Linked DNA regions of Homo sapiens: region 1 is linked to region 2. Evidence: fine-mapped expression QTL. Tissue or cell type: whole blood. Region 2 holds a variant in brackets; the other region holds the start of a gene. All regions are shown on one strand. Distances are from middle to middle.

Evidence for each region.
Region 1: it holds the start of LSP1, and the variant in region 2 is fine-mapped to the expression of LSP1 in whole blood (INTERVAL, PIP 0.92).

Annotation. Positions count from the first base shown.
Region 1 is chr11:1,851,143-1,855,517 of GRCh38, reverse strand. LSP1 (lymphocyte specific protein 1) reads right to left here and starts at 2,434. Exons shown (of 11, transcript NM_002339.3): 1 at 2,321-2,434. The coding sequence starts at 2,373. RefSeq lists enhancers at 63-492, 2,343-2,662, 3,654-3,703.
Region 2 is chr11:1,870,975-1,875,349 of GRCh38, reverse strand. The region is part of intron 1 of LSP1 (lymphocyte specific protein 1); the gene reads right to left. Among named protein-coding and RNA genes, the nearest start is that of MIR7847, 6.9 kb to the left of the region's middle. RefSeq lists enhancers at 3,673-4,210, 4,211-4,375. The variant T/G (reference allele first, on the strand shown) is at 1,766.

The DNA.
Region 1 (4,375 bases), 20 kb after region 2:
GGCAGTCTGAGGGGAGGGGCCACATCATGCGACAGTCTGAGGGGCTGGACCCACTTGTCCAGCTGGAGGGGCTTGGCCTGCCCTGGACCTAGTGTTGAGGGCATGTCCTGAGACCGTCACAGGCTGGCGTACCTGGCACTCTGTGACATGCACGGGGGGCTGTCTTGTCCACTGCTCCAGCCCCAGCTGAGCCTGCCCAGCCTGGGCCTTCCTGGGGACTCCCGTGTGGGGGCTTCCCAGGCCATACATCCCTGCCTGGGTGCAGGGGACTTCTGTCCCATCCTAGACAGGAAACTCCCCGGTTCCCTTAGTCACCTTGTGAAATGAGAAGCCTACCCCACTGGGGCTCTCAGTTTCATTCTGAAAGGTCAGGCTTGGCTGCGCACCCCATGCAATTCGCGGGGGCAGGGGATGTCCAAGGAGGGGGTCCAGGCTTTGCAGAGCCCAGGAGAACCGCCGCTCTCCAGCTGGAGCGCCTGACAGCCCCGGCACAGGTGCAGCCCTGGCCTCCCAGGATCTGCACCAAGATGCCCCAGGATCATCTGTGCCTTGGCCATGCCCGCTCCAACCCCCCCTCCCCGCTCCTGGCCCGGGGGATCCAGGGCATTTGAGACAGCTGGGAGGGGGTGGCCAAGGATGAGGCCAAGGAGGAAGGCGGGGGTGCCCCAGCCCAGAGGCTCATGTCCTGCCCTTCTATGGGCATGAGGTGACCAGGAGCAGCACCTAGTCCAGGGCTGGGGGTGGTGCTGACAGGAGGGCCCGTTTTGCAGCTGGGACACAGCTGTTGTGCACCCAGAAGCCTGTCTCCCTGCACACGGCCTGGGCAGGGCATCCTCCCACCTCTCCCTGGGGACAGGCACGGACGTCCCGACCCAGCCCTCAGCCAGCCCCGGCCTCTGCTTAGCCTCCACTCCACTCACGGCACTCGGGGTCCCTTCAGTGGCCCCCCGCACCTGTACCCAAGTGGGATTTGGCAGCAAGAAGTCAGAGATGCAGACCCCTCACACATACCAGACCCACAGCAATGTGACGGCCACCAAGGACACAGACACAGGACAGTGACTGCAGCCACCAACAGCACAGGAGCTTTGTGTGAAGGCCGGGAGGTGGTCCCTGCACCGCCCCGGGTCGGGTAGACCGGGACCCTCTGCTGTCAGCACCAAGGCAGAGACTGGTAGCAGCCCTGGCTGCAGTTTTGGGGTATGTGAGCGTCACCCTGGGCCTCCTCTCAGGTCCGTCCTGTGTGGCTGCGGGCATCACACTCTTTCTGCAACCTGGGCCCCAGCGCCTTCCCTTCCGCACACCAGGCCACAGCCCCCGCTGACCTGCTCCTAGGCCGGCCTCTATCCCCAGCACCGGATCCCCATCCCCTGACCATTAGCACGTCGCCCCTCTGCCCCTCAAAGCCCTACCTGTCCCTGCACCGCACGCCCTGAGCCCTCCCATCTCTTCTGGGACCTGCACCGGGGGCAACTCGGGTTCCCCTGGCGAGGCTCAGCTGTGATGCCTGGATGCCTGCTGGCCGGCAGCTCCCCTCTGCCAGGGAGCCCAGTTACTAAGCCGCTAGCCCTCTCCACCCACCCCAGCACAGGGCTGGATGCCCATTGGTACCACAGAGTACAGCTGCCCGCTAGGAGGCCTTTGGCAGCGGGGTTTTTCTGCCCAGCTCTGGCAGTCCTACACACAACCTCTGCCATGCCCCCTCATGTCCCCACTCCAACCAACACACGGTGCCTGGCACCCAGCACAGGCACCTGCCAGAATCCTTGGCCTTGTCCTTTACCGCAGGTCAAGGGCAGCTTTGGGTGCCCTGCCCTGAGGCCTGCTGGGCCCCAAGCCTGGCGGCCTCCAGACCCTCAAGGCAGGATAGCCCCTCTCAGATAGTCCTGTGGGCAGGTGGCCAGGCCCGGGCCAGTTCCACCCATCCCAGAACAGCTGCTCCCCAGCCCCCACCTTGCCTCTTCCCAAGCTAACAGGGCCCACAGTCCCCAGCTCCTCCCTGGCAGTCCAGGACACGTCTTGGGGTCTCCTCGCTTCAGGCATCCACCATGGGCTTAGGATCCCACGCGCCTCCCCCAGTGAGTCCAGGGCACAGAGGCAGGCGGAAGAGACCTCCACCCTTGTTGTGAGAGGGGGGTCCCAGCAAGACTTCCTGCCACCTGTCTGTGGGTCCCCAGTTTCCCCATCGGACATCCAAGTTCTCCCATTGGGGGCCCCAGATTCCCCATCAGGCACCTCAGTTCTCCACCCTCCATGCAGCTCAAGGACTATGCACCCGTGGACACGGCACAGGGCGCCGGGCGTCGCCGCAGACCCTTACCCCAGCAACTCTTCCCGCTCCTCGGCACCCGGGTCACTCGAAGCCTCCGCCATCAGCCTGTAGTCTGGGCCCCACAGGGTGCTGGCAGATCCCTGGAGTGGGTGTACGTGCTGTGGCTTTCAGTGCTTTCTGGGGCGGCTTCTGAGCCCCCACCCCCAGCCGAGTTTCACTTCCCCCTTCCGGCTGCAGGTTGAGGTTTGGAACCTGTCTCGGCTTGGGTCAGGGTGTTGTTTTTTAATCTGTTGCTACAAGAGGAGAGGAAGAAAAAAAAAAAAACCCAAACCACCCCTCAGGAAGCGTTAAGCAAGTTACAGGGGCCTGGGGTGACAGAGACGGGGTGCGAGGGCCAAGATGGCCGCAGGCAGCTCTTCATGGCTCGGGGAGGGGGACCCATGTTACCCCTGGTCCCCGCTAGTAGCTCTGGCCATCAGGTCCACCTGTGAGTGGCCAGTTCTCCTGCAGCATCAGGGACAAACACGTCTGTGATCCCATAAGCACCACGTGAGCGTTTTAGCTTCTTTGGGTGAAATCTACCCAGAGGCCGGCTCTCCTACAGGTGCTCATGGAACTTGGTGGAGTCTTTTCTCGAAGCCTGGGGTCATAGCCTTGAGCACATCAAACAGCTGTGGGTCCCAGGTGGCTTTGGGGGCTGTGCCCGGGATGCCCCTGCGTTCTACCCGTCGGGTGCCTTGTTCTGTCTTGGACTGCCTTGCTGATGCCGAGCTGTCGGGCATCCGCCTCGTCCCCCCGCTGCCCCTTGCTCTCCGTGCTCTGGTCGCTGGAGTTGACCACCGAGTGGTTCGTGTCCCCAGGCTCTAAAGGCAGTGCCTCAGGGACCCTCCCAAGAGGCATAGGCCAGCCCGAGGGGAGGGATGGAGGCTGTTTCCAGCCCTCACTGTCCCCAGCTTCTGGGAGTGACCACGCAGTGGCTCCAGGGTCAGGAGGAGGGATGCATGACTGCAGGAGCCAGACCCCAAAAGCTGAGGCAGGGGAGGACTTAAGCTGGGCCAGAGTAGGGCAGCCACAGAGGTGGCGAAGGCTTCCCTGCTGGAAACCTCAGCGCAGGAGAATGGGAGAAGGGAGCCCTGGCCAGCGGCTGGGCCTGAGAAATCCAACCAGCAAGGACTTACAGGGGGTCCCAAGGCAAAGAGGGGCTGGAGAGAGGCCAGGGGTTGGGAGGGCCCTGGGCCCAGAGTGTTGACCCATCAGGGTGGGGCCGAACCGGAGGCCGCCTCCTTGGGACTCAGCGAGCCCCCCACCCACCAAACACACCACAAAGACCAGCAGAGGCTTTCAGAGCCCCACGAGTGGAGGCACCAGAGGGATCCGTGGCCCAGACGATGGGCAGGGCTAAAACCAGATCAGGCCCAGCGCCATGGAGATGAACAGGCCATGCCTGTGTCTTCCCCACGCCTCCTCCCTGGGGGTCCCTAAGGGCCCCCAAGTCCCCCTTGCAGAGTGGCACATGGCAGAGCCCTGCGGTTCTCACCATGCGGCCTCCATCCTGAGGCCATCCTGAAACGGCTCCCCTCATGGTGGTAGGGTCTCGCCTCCAGGTTGCAGCCATTCCGCTCACCCACCCGTCCAGGCACTGCATCGGCAGGTGCAATGCCTGTGTCCTCCTGCCCTTGAGGTCCTTCCCTTGGCCTGCAGAAGGGCAGCCCCAGCATCGTCGCTGGGAGCTTCAGGAACCTTGCCAGGAAGAGGACAGGCAGGTGGAGGCTGGGGTCCACCCCCTCCTGCCCTCTACTGCCCGAAGGCTGGACCGGCTGCCTCACTTTTGGAGCTAGAGCAAAATGAGAATGCAGAACCCTGTGGTTCAAAAACTGAGAATTTTGGCCGGGTGCGGTGGCTCACACCTGTAATCCCAGCACTTTGGGAGCCCGAGGCAGGTGGATCACTTGAGGTCAGGAGTTTGACACCAGCCTGGCCAACATGGTGAAACCCCATCTCTACTAAAAATATAAAAATCAGCCAGGCGTGGTGGCGGGCGGCTGTAAGCCCAGCTACTCGGGAAGCTGAGGTAGGAGAATCGCTTGAACTTGGGAGGCGGAG
Region 2 (4,375 bases):
TCCCCACACCCAGGTCCTTCTGGGCCTCTGCTGCACAGATCAGGTCTGGAAGGCTCCCTGGAGGAGGCAGCGCCTGGACTTGGACATCGGCCTGCAGAGCTGGCTTCCCTCACAACCCTGGGAAGACAGAACTCCTCAGCGGGTTGATGGGGGGGAGGGCGGAGCCTCCCTCCACGGCACCAGCCCAGTGCTGGGGGCGACACAGACAGCCAGAAGCTGGCAGGGGCCGGAGGCTCTGCCCCCCATGGGCTTTACATGCCGAAGCCCCCATGGCCGAGCTGGGACCCAGGGTCAGCCCAGGGAGGCCGCGAGAAAGGAGACTGTGGGCCCCACCCCATCACACAGGGAGGAGGTGCTGTGCCCGCTGTGGGGGGCAGCTGCCCCTCTCTGGGCCCTTTGGGTGGGAAGAGGCTTGGTGAGGTAGAAAGCCCAGCCCCAGCCGGCAGTGTTGCCTTCTCACAGTGGCAGCCCTTTGTAACCAAGGGGGGCCCTGCCGGGCCTCTCCTTGTTTCCTCACCATGGGGCAGCATTTGGGGACCTCTTGAGGGACCCCCTAGGTGCTTCTACTCAGAGCCCCCAAAGCCAAGGAGCCTCCACTCCTCCGTCTGCAGCCTCCCCTGCCGGTTCTCACTACCCAGGGTTCAGTGGCCTGGGGGCTGCCGGAGGGAGTCGCCTCTGCCAAGGCCCCTCCCGGCGCCTCCCTGGCTCATCCAGCCCACCTCCCTCCCACGCTGGCTCAGGCAAAGTGCTCTGGTCACCAGGAGCCCTTTCTGACCAGCCCCGGCCCCTTCTTGGCCTTCGCCCCACCTGGCCTCCCCTGGAGCCCTGGCCTGGGTGCCGGGCCTGCTGGGTCCAGAGCCCACCCCACCCTGAACAGCCCTGAGTCTCAGCCACCCTCTGTTCTCACCCATTTCACAGCTGGGGAGTGAAGACTGGGCCTGAGGTCTCGCTCCCGGGAAGGGGTGTCGGGAGACCAGATCCTCACCCCGACACTGCCCCCACTGTCCCCAGCCTGCCCCCACTGTCCCCGGCCTGCCCTCACTGTCCCCAACACTGCCCCCCCGTCCCCGGCCTGCCCCCACTGTCCCCAGCCTGCCCCCACTGTCCCCGGCCTGCCCTCACTGTCCCCAACACTGCCCCCACTGTCCCCAGCCTGCCCCCACTGTCCCCGACACTGCTCCCACTGTCCCCGGCCTGCCCCCACTGTCCCCGGCCTGCCCCCACTGTCCCCAGCCTCCCTCCTCTGCCGGCCTCCCTGCTCTGCCGGCCTCCCTCCTCTGCCGGCCTCCCTGCTCTGCCAGCCTCCCTCCTCTGCCGGCCTCCCTCCTCTGCCGGCCTCCCTGCTCTGCCAGCCTCCCTCCTCCGCCGGCCTCCCTCCTCCGCCGGGCTCCCTGCTCTGCCGGCCTCCCTCCTCTGCCGGCCTCCCTCCTCCGCCGGCCTCCCTCCTCTGCCGGGCTCCCTGCTCTGCCAGCCTCCCTCCTCTGCCAGCCTCCCTCCTCTGCCGGCCTCCCTCCTCTGCCGGCCTCCCTCCTCTGCTGGGCTCCCTGCTCTTCTGGTTGCCACCCTGATGGCTACTTCCTGCCCCACAACCACCAGACTAGCCCAGACTTGGTTCCAGCTTTTTCTTCTCAGCCTGCCTGGGATGGCCCAGGGCATGATTCTTCCATAGCCATAGCCTCGGTCCAGTTCCTCCCTCCTCCCTCCTCCTTCCATTCTTCTCCTTCTCCTTCCCTCCTTCCCTTCCTCCCTTCTCCATCCTCCCTTC[T/G]TCCTCCCTCTTCCTTCTTCCCTCCTCCCTCTATCCTTCCCTCCTTTCCTCCCCTCCTTCCTCCCTCCCTCCCTCCCTCCCTCCATCTTTCCTTAGCCAGCAGTTTATTTTGTCAGGTGCTAGGGACCCAAAGACGGAGGAGTGAGATCTCCTCCCTGCCCTTACAAATCTTAGCAGTTGCCAAGAAACCAGCGCTGACCCATGATGTGGATCAAGAAGCACAGAGGGGAGCTGGCAGGAAGTCTCTCAAAGGAGGGGCTCCTGTGCCTGCTCTGAGCCTCGGGGTCGCCGCAGTGGGCAGGGTCCTGGCAGGGAGGAAGGGGTGCAGTGGCCGTGCGTATGCCTAGCGGTCCCCAGGGAGGCACAGCCAAGGGGAGACAGAGCCGCCCCCCACCCGCACAGCCCTCCCCTCTCCCCATCCTCCCTGTATCCCAGATGCCAGCCCTCAACTCTTGATGACCTGAGGCTTGTCTCTGCCCCCTGCCTCCACCTCTCCCTGCCTCCATCTCTCCCTGCCTCCACCTCTGGGGAGAGGTGCACAGGGAGGGGTCTGTTCCTCTGGGTTCCTTACCCACCCAATCCGAACCTGCTTCCCCCTATACCCCCACCCCCCACCGCTGGGACTGCTGTCCAACTTGGGATGGGATAGGGTCGCCTCCTCCATTGCTGAAGCCCCCTGAGCTTCATGACCCACCCAGTGCTGCATGAGGGCCCTGAGCTCCTGCATCAACTTCGCCCCAGAGTGGTGATGCCAGGACTAGTCTGAGTGCGGGCCGGGGTGACTGCAGCCCAGGCATGCCCGCCACACACACCCCGTCCCAAAGGTGCCCACGCCAGCCGGACAGACCCCAACTCTACCAGCGCAGGCCAGGGTGACTACAGCCCAGGTCTGCCCGCCACACACACCCCCTCCCAAAGGTGCCCACGCCAGCCAGACAGACCCCAACTCTACCAGCGTGCACCGGGGTGACTGCAGCCCAGGCCTGCCTGCCACACACACCCCCTCCCAAAAGTGCCCACGCCAGCCAGACAGACCCCAACTCTACCAGCGTGCACCAGGGTGACTACAGCCCAGGCCTGCCCACCACACACACCCCATCCCAAAGGTGCCCACGCCAGCGGACAGACCCCAACTCTACCAGCACGCACCAGGATGACTGCAGCCCAGGCCTGCCCGCCACACACACCCCGTCCCAAAGGTGCCCACGCCAGCCAGACAGACCCCAACTCTACCAGCATGGGCTGGGGTGACTACAGCCCAGGCCTGCCCACCACAGAGACCCCGTCCCAAAGGTGCCCACGCCAGCCGGACAGACCCCAACTCTACCAGCGTGTGCCAGGGTGACTACAGCCCAGGCCTGCCCACCACACACACCCCGTCCCAAAGGTGCCCACGCCAGCCGGACAGACCCCAACTCTACCAGCATGCACCAGGGTGACTGCAGCCCAGGCCTGCCCGCCACACACACCCCCTCCCAAAAGTGCCCACGCCAGCCAGACAGACCCCAACTCTACCAGCGTGCACCAGGGTGACTATAGCCCAGGCCTGCCTGCCACACACACCCCGTCCCAAAGGTGCCAACACCAGCCAGACAGACCCCAACTCTACCAGCGTGCGCCAGGGTGACTACAGCCCAGGCCTGCCCGCCACACACCCCCCCTCCCAAAAGTGCCCACGCCAGCCAGACAGACCCCAACTCTACCAGCGTGCGCCAGGGTGACTACAGCCCAGGCCTGCCTGCCACACACACCCCGTCCCAAAAGTGCCCACGCCAGCCGGACAGACCCCAACTCTACCAGCACGGGCTGGGGTGACTACAGCCCAGGCCTGCCCGCCACACACACCCCCCTCCCAAAGGTGCCCACGCCAGCCGGACAGACCCCCAAGTCTACCCAGACACCCAACAGGAGGGGTGCCCGTGCAGCGGCAGACAGCGCTGACCAAAGGGCATCTATGACCCTGGAAACCTCATGGTGTGGCCTCCGCAGAGCCGCAAGCCTTGGCCCCCTGCTGAGACTGGAAAATGGAGCCTGGTTTCCCCCAACCCCTCTACCCCTGGCTTCCCATTGGTCCTCAGAGGCTGGGTCAGGGACCGTCCTCAGAGCAGGGTCCAGAACCGGCTTGATGTCCTGCTGACCAGCCCATCACCTCCCTTGCGCTGGGTGCCCTACCTCTTTTGATGTGCTCTGTGGTCAGCCCTGTGCCGGCAGCACCCTTGTCCCGCTCTGCAGCTGTTTCACATCTCTGCCCCCATCTGCGGCGACCAGCCTGGGTCGGAGGTTAGGGCCCCGCCCTGCTCGTGGGTGGCCCTGCCTGCTGCATCCCGGCGGCGTGGCTGCGGCTCTGCCTGCCCCGTGCCTGCTCTTTCTTCCCCCCTCCTCCTGTTCTGCGTGCTGTGCATATGGCTTTCTGTCTTCCTCCGTGTCACTAACCACAACGCTGCCGAGCCCGTGCCACGAGCGAGGCGACCTGCGGGACCTTTCTGGGGCCCTCGCCTGCACTCCGCGATCAGCGTCCTCCGCCGCAGCTCTCACCCTCGCATGCGTCTACATGCAGCCCCACTCGGTGCCTGCTTCCCGCAGGAGGGGACCAAGGAGCCCTGATACCTA